Homo sapiens: one gene and its partners. The protein of the gene in region 1 purifies or fractionates together with the protein of each later gene. This does not show direct contact. Each region holds a gene or a part of one and is shown in the gene's direction. Other genes may lie near its edges.

Region 1 (3,650 bases):
AGAGGTTCAGTCTGGCATACCAGTCACCTGATTCACGTTTTCAGGGTAGTCAGATGGAGACCAGAGCTTGATTCTCTGGGGGTGGGTGGTTTGGAGAATTCTGTGAGACCTTCTGCCTTGGCTGCTAGAGTAGTTGTTGACTGATGTGTAGTAGCCAAATAAGGTGTCAGAGACAGGGTGTGGCTGGCTACTCTGTTGTGGATGTGCATTAGTGTGGCCTCTACAGGATCAGTTCAGTATGGACCCTGTCATTATTTGGTGTTTCAGAAACTGCTTACCCACAAGAGATAAAATTCTGAGAAAAGAGATCACGTTAACCGAAAGGTCTAAAGAAAGGTTTGTAAGTCAGAATAGCAATTTGTAGTGGTAGGTGTATACCTGGCTCAGAATGTAGAATTTTTTGAGCAAACCAGGGATTCCCTGCTGCTGGGATCTAGCCTAAGACCAAATTAAAAATCAGAAGATTGCTTGCTGGGTAAGCATAGATTTAAGGACTAGCTGAATAGTATTTTCCTACAAGCTTCAGGCTATAAGACCAGGCCTTCTTTTACTCTGGGGGTATTTCTCTCTTAAACAACTGCCAGACACTCAGACTCAAACTGAAGCAGGATATTTCCCTTCCCTGACCTATTCACAGGACTCATGACAGGGGTGCCCCGTTTACTCCACGCACTGCTCTCAACTCCTTGCAGAAGGGAGTGTGCGAGAGAACAAGGCAGGAACTGGAGTGCACAAGCACTGGAACCTGGCTGTCTGTTTCAGTGCCAGTGGGATCAAACTCCACTCACTCAGACCCACTGTGTTCTACCCATTGTGGGAGGGAGTGCACATGTGAGCCGGTGCAGGAGCCAGAATGAGCGCTTCTGGGCACCAGCAGGAGCGAACTCTGTGCAGGCCATATGGCAGCATCTAGGTGGGGTGTCTACAACTCCTGAAGCCCCAGAGGATGTGTTATGGTGCTCTTTTAGCTCTGCCATCCACAGATGGCTTAAGTGTTAACAGCTCAGTGGGCCTGCAGCTGCCCTCTGCCAGTGAGGGCAAAGGATCAGTGTGACAGTCTTTTGTATCTGCACTCATGGCTTCTGAGCTTTTGTCCAGTGTCCAGGAAAAATGAGGTCACATGAATGAATTAAAGGATGGTAAATGTGGGTGATTTTATTTTTATTTATGTGGGAAGGGGAGCTGAAAAGGGGACAGTCAGTGGTGGGTAGGTAATTTTCCCCTTAAGTCTGGCTGTCTCCAGCCAAATTCTTCTCCATAGTTACACAGTCAAGCTATCCCTCTGAAGTCAAGCCACTTCTCTCTGACATCCAGCCATAGTCTCCAACATCCAGCTGTTTCTCATCTCTGCTGACTGAGTCTGGGGTCTTTATAGGCACAGGATAGGGTGGGGGCAGAGCCATGGGTGGTTTAAGAAAAGACAACATTCTAGTGGGAAAACAGGGATATAAGTTCTCACTTTGGGCCACAGTCTCAGCCTTTTCAGCTTCAAAGGTGGGGCTTCGCCAGGGACCCGCCTCTAGAATTTCTCTGCCTCCTGCCTCTGTCATTATGTCAAAACCACCATGCTATATTCTTACTCTTCCTCTTGTTTGCTAATAGTAAGTTGTCAGAAAAACTTTTGTCATTACCAGTTTCCTTATGAAGGGGATAACTGGTTAAGATTTCCAGGAGTACTGCTTATTTCATATTCATTAACAAGTTACTTGGGTAATATTTGTTGTTGTTTGTGTGTGTGTGTGTGTGTGTGTGTGTGTGTGTGTTTTGAGACAGATTCTTGCTCTTTGCCCAGGCTGGGGTGCAGTGTCGTGATCATCACTCACTGCAGCCTTGAACTCCTAGGCACAAGCGATCCTCCTGCCTCAGCCTCCCAATGTGGGATTATAGGCGTGAGCCACTGTGCCCAGATTGGGTGATGTTTGAAACCTATTATTGCACATGAGATTTGTTGTTTGTGCTACTTAATATGAGTTTGCAATAGTTACCTTTACCATTTTCACATTGGTTCCTGTAACACTCTCCACAAAAGACTAATGTATTTTCCACGTTCACTGAGCGCTTTCTGTGGATACACTGACTTTAGTCCCTATTTTTTCTCCAGGGTCATCTAGTAGCAGGCACCCAAATCAGGCAACTCCCAAGAAAAGTGGTTTAAAGAATGGCCAGATGAAGAATAAAGATGACGAGTGCTTCGGGGATGATATTGAGGAGATCCCAGACACAGATTTTGATTTTGAAGGGAACCTGGCTCTTTTTGACAAGGCAGCTGTGTTTGAGGAGATTGATACCTATGAAAGGAGAAGTGGTACCCGTTCCCGGGGCATCCCAAATGAAAGGCCCACTCGGTACCGCCATGATGAGAACATCTTGGAGTCCGAGCCCATTGTCTATCGACGGATCATAGTGCCCCACAACGTGAGCAAGGAGTTCTGCACGGGTGAGTTGCATCAGGTCCCACATCCTGCTGGTTGCTGTTGCCTTTCTATTATGCTTGAAACAGAAAGACCTGGCTTCTGAGTCAGAATCTCACACTAGGAATTAATTTAAGTGGCTTGGTGGCTGGCCCGGTATTATTGTCTCTTGGGGATTGCAGCCAATAACAGCATTCTGCCATGGTGGAGGGGTAATTTCTGTAGATGTCTGTGTATATCCTGTATCTGGTAGGATATGGCCTGCCACTTATTTAGTATGCTGTGAGTAACAACTAAAGGCAAAGGGCCTGCTATGTAGATTCAAATATTCAGATCTATTTTCACTTTGGCTTCTCTATTACTGCCCATACATTTCACCAGACTTCAACTCTGTTTTACTAATTATTTGTTGTTGCAAAAAAACAGTTGAAGATGGATGATTGGAATCATTGGCTAAAAATAGAGTTTTAATAAATTACATTTCTTTACTATGCTGTTCTTATCTCCTGTTAGCCCAGGACATTGAAAGTTGGCTAATTTCATGTAACAGTGTAGTGCCTTATGTAGGTCATTGTAGATGATAATCTAGTTCTATTACCTCAGTGATTATTGTTTCTTTTTTTAGCATTAGAACCTTTTCTTCAAACCTATGGCATATAAAACAGATTAAAGCAGTGTGAGAGAGGTAATTCATCACATCCGTGTCCCATCCCTTCCCCTCAAACCACATTACTAACTGGGCCTCTTGGAATATGGTTTGAAAACCATTGTTATTGAATGATCCTAAGAGCTAAAGGGGAAGTCATAATCATTTTAGTAAGTAGAGAAGGAATTGAGTATAATATTTTTATTTTGGTTTGAAGTTTGGAATATAAGGAATATAAATCTTGAATGCTGGTAGCTGCTATAAGGAGAACTGTGGACGCAGCTAATTGCATTTGGAGGAAAGCCAGACATGGCTTTTTTTTTATAGATAATAGTAGGACTCTGTTGTATTTGGTTTCGCTGAGTATAGTAGCTTGCATGTGCTTTCCATGTGAAAAAAAAAAATAGGCCAACTGTCAGGCTAAGAAAGACTGCTAAAAAAAAAACAAGCTGCTGAACTGTGTCAGTCTTTTGCTGGCAGATTCTGGTAGGCATGCCTGTTTATTAAGGTGGTTTCCTTAAGTGGCAGTGACAGTGACACTGTAACTTGCCGAAGTCCTTCGATTTTTAACACCTGTGTAAAGGCAAACAGCC
Region 2 (3,750 bases), on another chromosome or scaffold:
GGCCTGGGTCCAGATGGAGAAGGGTCTGTTCCCGCACGAGGCGGGCCGGTTGTGCCTTAGTGGCTGGCCTGCACCTATGCTTCCACAAGGCACTCCCCAGGGCCCCCAGGGCCTGTCACCTCCTACCTGAGGCTGCAGGACTGGGGCTGTGCATCCTTGGTCACCACTGCTCACTGTCCTGGGAGGCGGTCACCCCAGGCCCTGGCCACATTCATTTAGCCAGTCCCTGCCAGACAATGGCCAGTGTCCGAGTGCTGGCTGTGTAGGGCCTGTGCGGGGGGGTGGCAGTGTGGGCACATGGCCTCTGCAGAGGTAAGGGAGGTGCAGGGGGCCGTCTGCAGCTCGGCTGCCCTCCATATCACCCTCTCCTTCCCCCGCAGGTAAGAATGACGGTTCCATCGGCGGGAAGCAGTACTTCAGGTGTAACCCTGGCTACGGGCTGCTGGTCAGGCCCAGCCGGGTCCGCAGGGCCACGGGCCCTGTGCGGCGGCGCAGCACAGGACTCCGGCTGGGTGCCCCCGAGGCCCGCCGGAGCGCCACCCTCTCGGGCTCCGCCACCAACCTGGCCTCGCTGACAGCTGCCCTGGCCAAGGCCGACAGGAGCCACAAGAACCCTGAGAACCGGAAATCCTGGGCCAGCTGAGCCGCTGCCTTAGGGCGAACTTTTCTGGGGGTGCCCGGCCCCTTTTGAGCCCTGCCAGTGACAGCCCTGAGGAGCCAGGAGCCCGGTGGCCCCTTCCCCAGGGGCAGGGCGATGAATGCTTTTTGCACGACACAGGGCTGGTGACCTCCCTGGGCCTCTGGAAGCTTTGTTTCTTCTGTACCCGGGTAAAGTGGGGGCCTCAACTGTGCCTCCTCAGGTGGATGGAAGGTTCTGGGTGCCCGCAGGGGCTGGGGGATGCTAGGACTGAGACCCTGGGTGGTGCAGCGCCTGGTGATCTTGCTGTGTGCCTGTGCCTGGGGCCTTATGTTGCTCTTTCTATCATTTCCATTCTGGTGGCCCCACTAATGTCTTAACCTAAACCATAATTGTAACCAGTGCCTTTCCTCCCCACTGGAGGGCAAGCCCCCCCACCCACCCAGGATGTCCTGGCTCACTCCGCAAGCCCCCCAGCCTCCCACCCTGGTCCCAGTTTCCCGCAAAGTGCCTCTGGGGGACCCCCCAGCCTCCCACCCTGGTCCCAGGTTCCACAAGTGCCTCTGGAGGGCCCTGGGCTCTGGCAGATGGTCCTGGTGCCCCAGACGGGGGCCGAGGGCCTGAGCCCCCCCATCCCTCCTCTGCCAGGGTTTCTTAGCGGTTTCTCTGTGGATGTTTTGGCATCTTTAGACACCTGGAAAGTCTCTTATGTTTGCCGTTTATTCCCTTCACAGAAGGCTTGGAATGTATTTATTTATATTTATTTTTTCAAAATCCGAAATCATTTGCGAGCCGCAATCGTCGTCTGCCTGTGTGGGGGGGCCCAGGGCCTGCCTTGCACGTTGCAGCCTCTCTGGCCATTGCAGAGCTGCTGGCCTCCTGCCCAGGTGGAGGGTCCTGGGGACGGCAGAGGATAAAGCCCCCTCCTCACATCCCTCTATTGCGGATCCACAGTGGCCTTACTCTTAACTTGGATGAGAGCAAAAACCTGGGAGAATGATGTGCTTCTGTAGTCGGTGACAAAGGAAGAGGCATTGCTACTTTATTTGGTGCACTTTTGGTTTCTAGGAAGGTCTTTGGGTCATTTTAACTTCTCGGCAACTCCCAGACTCTCAGAGTGTGGGGCTGGGGCCTGGCGGCTGGGCTGGTGCAGGGAGTGTGCTGGTTAGTCTCCAGACCCTCACAGCAGCCACGCCCCCAGGCCCACCGTGCATGGTGTGGGCGGGACAGCCGGAAGCTTCCGGGGTGGCCTCCACCTCCTGGCTGGGGCACTTATGCTCCCAGAGCCTTTGGTGCCAGGTTTGTGGGATGGGGGTTAGCGTCTATGTGTGGAAGGCCACCAATCTAGGGACAGGAGTCCTGGGTCAAGATTCACACAGCCACCCTTGGAGCTGGTTTCTAGTTCTCACATTTAGTCAACATCTAGAAAGCGCTGCGGAAGGCTCTGGTTCTCTAGGGACTTGAAGGCGCCAACAGAGTAGTCTCCATGGTGGGCCTGTCCCAGCCCTGGCTGCGAGGACAGGTTGTCTTTCTCTCCCCAGTTGGCGAGGGACACGAAGGCTGCGGCCGGGCTGGCAGAGGGCCCGGCCCCTGGGGGGAGGCACTCCTCCAGGGCTCTCCCTGTCCTTAGCCGATTTTGAGGGAACCCTGTGGCACCTGTCCCTGGATGAAGAGCTGTCACCTCTGCCTTGCCCTTTAACTCAACCCGCTTCCCAGCACAGCGGCTTTCTTTTTAAAACCTGTTTCACTGAGAAGTTTGTTTTTGGGTCCGCTGGTGTCACTATGGCCTGGGTGAGAGGCCAGCACTGCTGCTGCCCTGAGGGGAAACGCCTGGGCCGTGTAGTGGGGACGCTCTGGGAATGGTGGCGGACGGGCAGCGTGGGTGGGACCTGGCACTTCGTGGTGGCTGAGCCATCCACCCAGCAGCGGCCTCCTGTAGCACCATCTTGGGAAAGTCCTGGGGGACGTGTGTGTCGTGCTTTTTACCATCGGTTTGACTTACAGTGGAGTAGAACGAGCCAGAGTTCCTGACTTGAGCAGGTGGATTTGGGCCCAGGCCCTGTTCACTCTTGCTTCTCGGTGCGGACTAATGTCAGCTTGTGGCTGGGAAAGAGGGATGTGCAGTGACGTGGTCACCAAGGCAGTGAGCCCCGCTGACCCCGGGCCAGCACTTGGCAGGCAGGAGGTGCGGTCTCCAGAGTGGTGGGCCAGGGCGGGCTGGCCTCCGTCTTCTATCTTCTTTTCTTGCCTCCCTGACCAGCAGACTCACCTCCCAAGAACGCCTGCCCGCCCACCCGCCTTAGGACTCCCGATGCGCTCCTGGAAGGCCCCAGGAGTGGCACCTTAGTGTGGGTCGGCCCGCAGATGGCACCCAAGGCCGGGAAGGGCAGTAACTGCACACGCGGCGCTGTCAGAGATGGGGGTGGGGGATGCTTCTGGGGGCCCTGCCTCCCCATTGTGTGCCCAGAACATCCCTGGCCCCACCCCGCCACTTCCCTCGGGCCCTTATGAAGGACTGAGGCTCCAGGGTGAGAAGGCTCACTTCTGCCCCGGGCACTGCGTCCAGCAGCAGAGGGGACAGGGGGCAGGTGTGTGACTGGGTTCCTGGGTACCCAGGCCTGACCAGAGGGAGCGGGAGGGCAGAGGTGAGGAGGGGGAAGATGTTTCTGGGCCTACCAAGGTTCAACAAGAGAACGGAGCTGGGAATGTGACTGCTGGAGCCTGAGAGGTGGAGGAGTTCTGATCCCCCGTTACTTCCTAGCATTTTCTCCTCTTGCCTTAAAAGTTCCCTGTATGTGAAACGGGAAGTCCTGAGAGTGTGTGTTGGTGGCTGTGCGCACGCACACAAGACGGGAGTCACCCTGTGCTTCCTGCCCAAGATACTGACCCATTGAACCCCCAAAGCATCTTTCTCTCCACAAAGTCCGTGGTGCCTTCCTGGTGGGCTGCAGACACTAATGGTGTTGGGGGGTCTTGGAACAGCTTCTCTATGTGTGGATTCGTGTAAATGCGAAGAGTTCACATATAAAGAAGTGACTTTGATTCTGTGATTATATTGATTTGGTACACAGTAAATGGGAGTTTAAAAAATCCAAAGACTCTAATGACTTGTA
Region 3 (3,650 bases), on another chromosome or scaffold:
CCCGGCTTAGGCCCACAATTTTATTATAAGAATGTGCTGGCCGGGCACGGTGGCTCACACCTGTCGTCCCAGCACTTTGGGAGGCCAAGGCGGGCAGATCACAAGGTCAGGAGATCGAGACCATCCTGGCTAACACGGTGAAACCCCATCTCTACTAAAAATACAAAAAATTGCCCAGGTGTGGTGGCAGGCGCCTGTAGTCCCAGCTACTCGGGAGGCTGAGGCGGGAGAATGGTGTGAACCTGGGAGGCGGAGCTTGCAGTGAGCCGACATCGCACCACTGCACTCCAGCCCGGGCGACAGAGTGAGACTCTGTCTCAAAAAAAAAAAAAAAAAAAAAGAATGTGCCACAAATTATTTGGCTACACCCAAATTGTTTGGATTGTTTCTTATTTTTTACTGTTATCAACAATAGAGAACATTGGGTGTGAGCATGTCCAAGTCTTTCTGGAGTGTAAAATTTTAGAAGTAGAGTTGCTGTCCAAAAAGTGTACACATTGACAATTTTGCCAAGTTTTGAGTGCCCTTGAAAGAATTATAGCATCTTCTGATTCCACCAGTAATAACAGTGTCTTTTTCTTCACATCCTCATCAACCATGGGTATTATTCATCTTTTTAATTTTTGCCAATATGATGAGTGAAAATGCATTTTTTTAACTTTTTTTTTTTGAGATGGAGTGTTGCTCTGTCACCCAGGCTGGAGTGCAGTGGCGTGATCTTGGCTCACTGCAACCTCTGCCTCCCAGGTTCAAGTGATTCTCCTGTCTCAGCCCCCCGAGTAGCTGGGATTACAGGCTCATGCCACCGCGCCTGGCTAATTTTTGTGTTTTTAGTAGAGACGGGGTTTCACTGTGTTGGCCAGGCTGGTCCTGAACTCCTGACCTCAAGTGATCCACCTGCCTCGGCCTCCCAAAGTGCTGGGATTACAGGCATGAGCCACCACACCAGGCCGAAAATGCATCTTTTAATGATGTGCCTCACATGTTACTAATACAAGGATAAGTATATACATGTGTATATAGACACACACACACCATATGTATATACACGTATACCATATATGTGTGTGTACAGGTACATACACACACACACACACACACACGCAGACGCATATACACCTTCAGCCAACTGATCATGGCTATGCACCTTGGGAAAATTGGGAAACTACCCCAAACCCTAGCATTTTCATCTTTATTTATTTATTTATTTTTGAGACGGAGTTTCACTCTTGTTGCCCAGGCTGGAGCGCAATGACACGATCTCCCTCACCGCAGCCTCCACCTCCTGGGTTCAAGCGATTCTCCTGCCTCAGTCTCCAGAACTTTATTCATGGATATTCCTATTTTATTTTTGTTCTGTCCTTTACATAAGATTACAGACATAAGATTAATGCTTTTCCCTCTTCTAACCTCTTTCTCTTCTCCAGCAGAAACAGTGCCAGGGCCTTACAATGTGTTTTGGATGGTGACATAGCATCAACCCCCCTCTGCATCTTGGTCCCCACCCCGTCCCCTCCACTACCAAGCTGGAAGCACTCTGGTTTGTCCAAGTTCTAAAGTGCTGTGCCCAGGCCCAAATGCCATCCCCTAAGTTGCTGGTCTATGATTCTTTTTATTTTTATGATTTTATTTTAGTTTATTTTATTTTTGAGACAGAGTCTCGTTCTGTCACCCAGGCTGGAGCGCAGTGGTGTGTTCTCGGCTCACCGCAACCTCCGCCTCCCAGGTTCAAGCGTTTCTTGTGCCTCAGCCTCCCAGGCAGTTGGGATTACAGGTGAGCACCACCACTCCCGGCTAATTTTTGTACATTTTTAGTAGAGACAGGGTTTCACCATGTTGGCCAGACTGGTCTCGAACTTCTGACCTCAGGTGATCCACCTGCCTTGGCCTCCCAAAGTGCTGGGATTACAGGCGTGAGCCACTGTATGATTGTTTTTAATTCAAACACGTAACTACCAGGAAAGCTGTCATGAGCACATAACCCCAAATACCTTCATTTATTTATAAATTACATATACATATACTTATGTATTGTATGTTTTACATACATTCCAAAGAAGCTTCTTAACTTTTATCATTAATTTTAGTGAGATCAATTTCTCCCTTAATGAAAACAGCCTGGAAGTTTTTTTTCCTGTTCTCATTGGATACATATCTTGCTGATTGTGATGGATTCATACTTTGAATTCTCTTTTAATGATAATGGATATAAAACCTTGTTTCAAATAGTCTTGAAAAGATACCAACCCCTCCTCCTGCCTTTTTTGGCCCATTTCTTGTCAGATCCAGTTAACCCGTTACTGCTTTTATTTCATAATGTAGTGAAGGAAGACCTTACGCCCAGGAGGAGCAGTGAGAGGTCGGCTGTTTTCTTTTTGCTCACTTGTGCCGTCATTGTTGTTCTCTTCAGTCTATGGCTTCTTAGAAGGATTCTTTGTAAGCTGTGTGCGTGATATAAATTAAAATTGAATAATATAGGCCAGGCGTGGTGGCTCAGGCCTGTAATCCCAGCACTTTGAGAGGCCAAGTTGGGCCAGTCGCTTGAGCTCAGGAGTTCGTGACCAGCCTGGGCAACATGGCGAAACCCCGTCTCTACAAAAGACACAAAAATTAGCTGGGCCTAGTGGCGCGTGCCTGTGATCTCAGCTACTTGGGAAGCTGAGGTGGGAGAATCGCTTGAACCTGGGAGGTTGAGGCTGCAGTGAGCCGAGATCACGCCACTGCACTCTAGCCTGGGCAACAGAATGAGACTCTGTCTCAAAAAAAAAAATAAATAAATAAATAAAATAAAAAATTGGGTGATATATGGGGAAAAAAAGAACACTAACCCCTGTTTTACATCATATACAAATATTAATTCAAGATGAATTATAGTCACAAATGTGAAATGCAAACAATAATATTACCAGAAGTTAACAGAAAATATCATCATGACCTTGGGGTAGGCAATTTTTTTTGGGGGGCGGGGGACAGGATCTCACTCTGTCACCCAAGCTGGAGTGCAGTGTCATAATCTCAGCTCACTGCAACCTCTGGCTCCTGGGCGCAAGCAATCCTCCCACCTCTGCCTCCTGAATAGCTGGGACCACAGGCGTACACCACCATGCCCAGCTAATTTTTTGTATCTTTGGTAGAGACAGGGTTTTGTTTGCCATGTTGCCCAGGATGGTCTTGAACTCCTGGACTCAAGTTATTTGCCTGCCTCTGCCTCCCAAAGTGCTAGGATTTATAGGCATGAGGCACCATACCCAGCCTGGGGTAGGCAAACATTTTAAAAATACAATACAAGCACTAATCATTAAGAAATAATAATAAATTGGGCTGGGTGCAGTGGCTTATGCCTGTAATCCCAGCACTTTGGGAGGTCAGGAATTCAAGACCAGCCTGGCCAACATGGCGAAACACCATCTCTGCTAAAAGTACAAACATTAGTTGGGTGTGGTGGCAGGCGCCTGTAATCCCAGCTACTCAGGAGGCTGAGGCAGGAGAATTGCTTGAACCCAGGAAGCAGAGGTTGCAGTCAGCTGAGATCACATCACTGCCCTCCAGCCTGGGCGACAGAGTAAGACTTGATCTCAAAATAAATAAATAAATAAATAAATAATTGGATTTCATTATAATTAAGAACTTCTGGCTGGGAGCTGTGGCTC

Evidence for each region.
Region 2: the proteins of EDC3 (region 1) and KIF13B purify together in Homo sapiens (affinity purification with mass spectrometry, with the first as the bait; one large-scale study listed by BioGRID). This does not show direct contact.
Region 3: the proteins of EDC3 (region 1) and CBY1 purify together in Homo sapiens (affinity purification with mass spectrometry, with the first as the bait; one large-scale study listed by BioGRID). This does not show direct contact.

Annotation. Positions count from the first base shown.
Region 1 is NC_000015.10:74,654,520-74,658,169, reverse strand, and holds part of EDC3 (enhancer of mRNA-decapping protein 3), read left to right. Parts: intron 1-2,101; coding exon 2,102-2,437; intron 2,438-3,650. UniProt on the Homo sapiens protein: Binds single-stranded RNA. Involved in the process of mRNA degradation and in the positive regulation of mRNA decapping. May play a role in spermiogenesis and oogenesis.
Region 2 is NC_000008.11:29,067,397-29,071,146, reverse strand, and holds part of KIF13B (kinesin-like protein KIF13B), read left to right. Parts: intron 1-380; coding exon 381-643; 3' UTR 644-3,750. UniProt on the Homo sapiens protein: Involved in reorganization of the cortical cytoskeleton. Regulates axon formation by promoting the formation of extra axons. May be functionally important for the intracellular trafficking of MAGUKs and associated protein complexes.
Region 3 is NC_000022.11:38,659,543-38,663,192, forward strand, and holds part of CBY1 (protein chibby homolog 1), read left to right. Parts: intron 1-3,650. UniProt on the Homo sapiens protein: Inhibits the Wnt/Wingless pathway by binding to CTNNB1/beta-catenin and inhibiting beta-catenin-mediated transcriptional activation through competition with TCF/LEF transcription factors.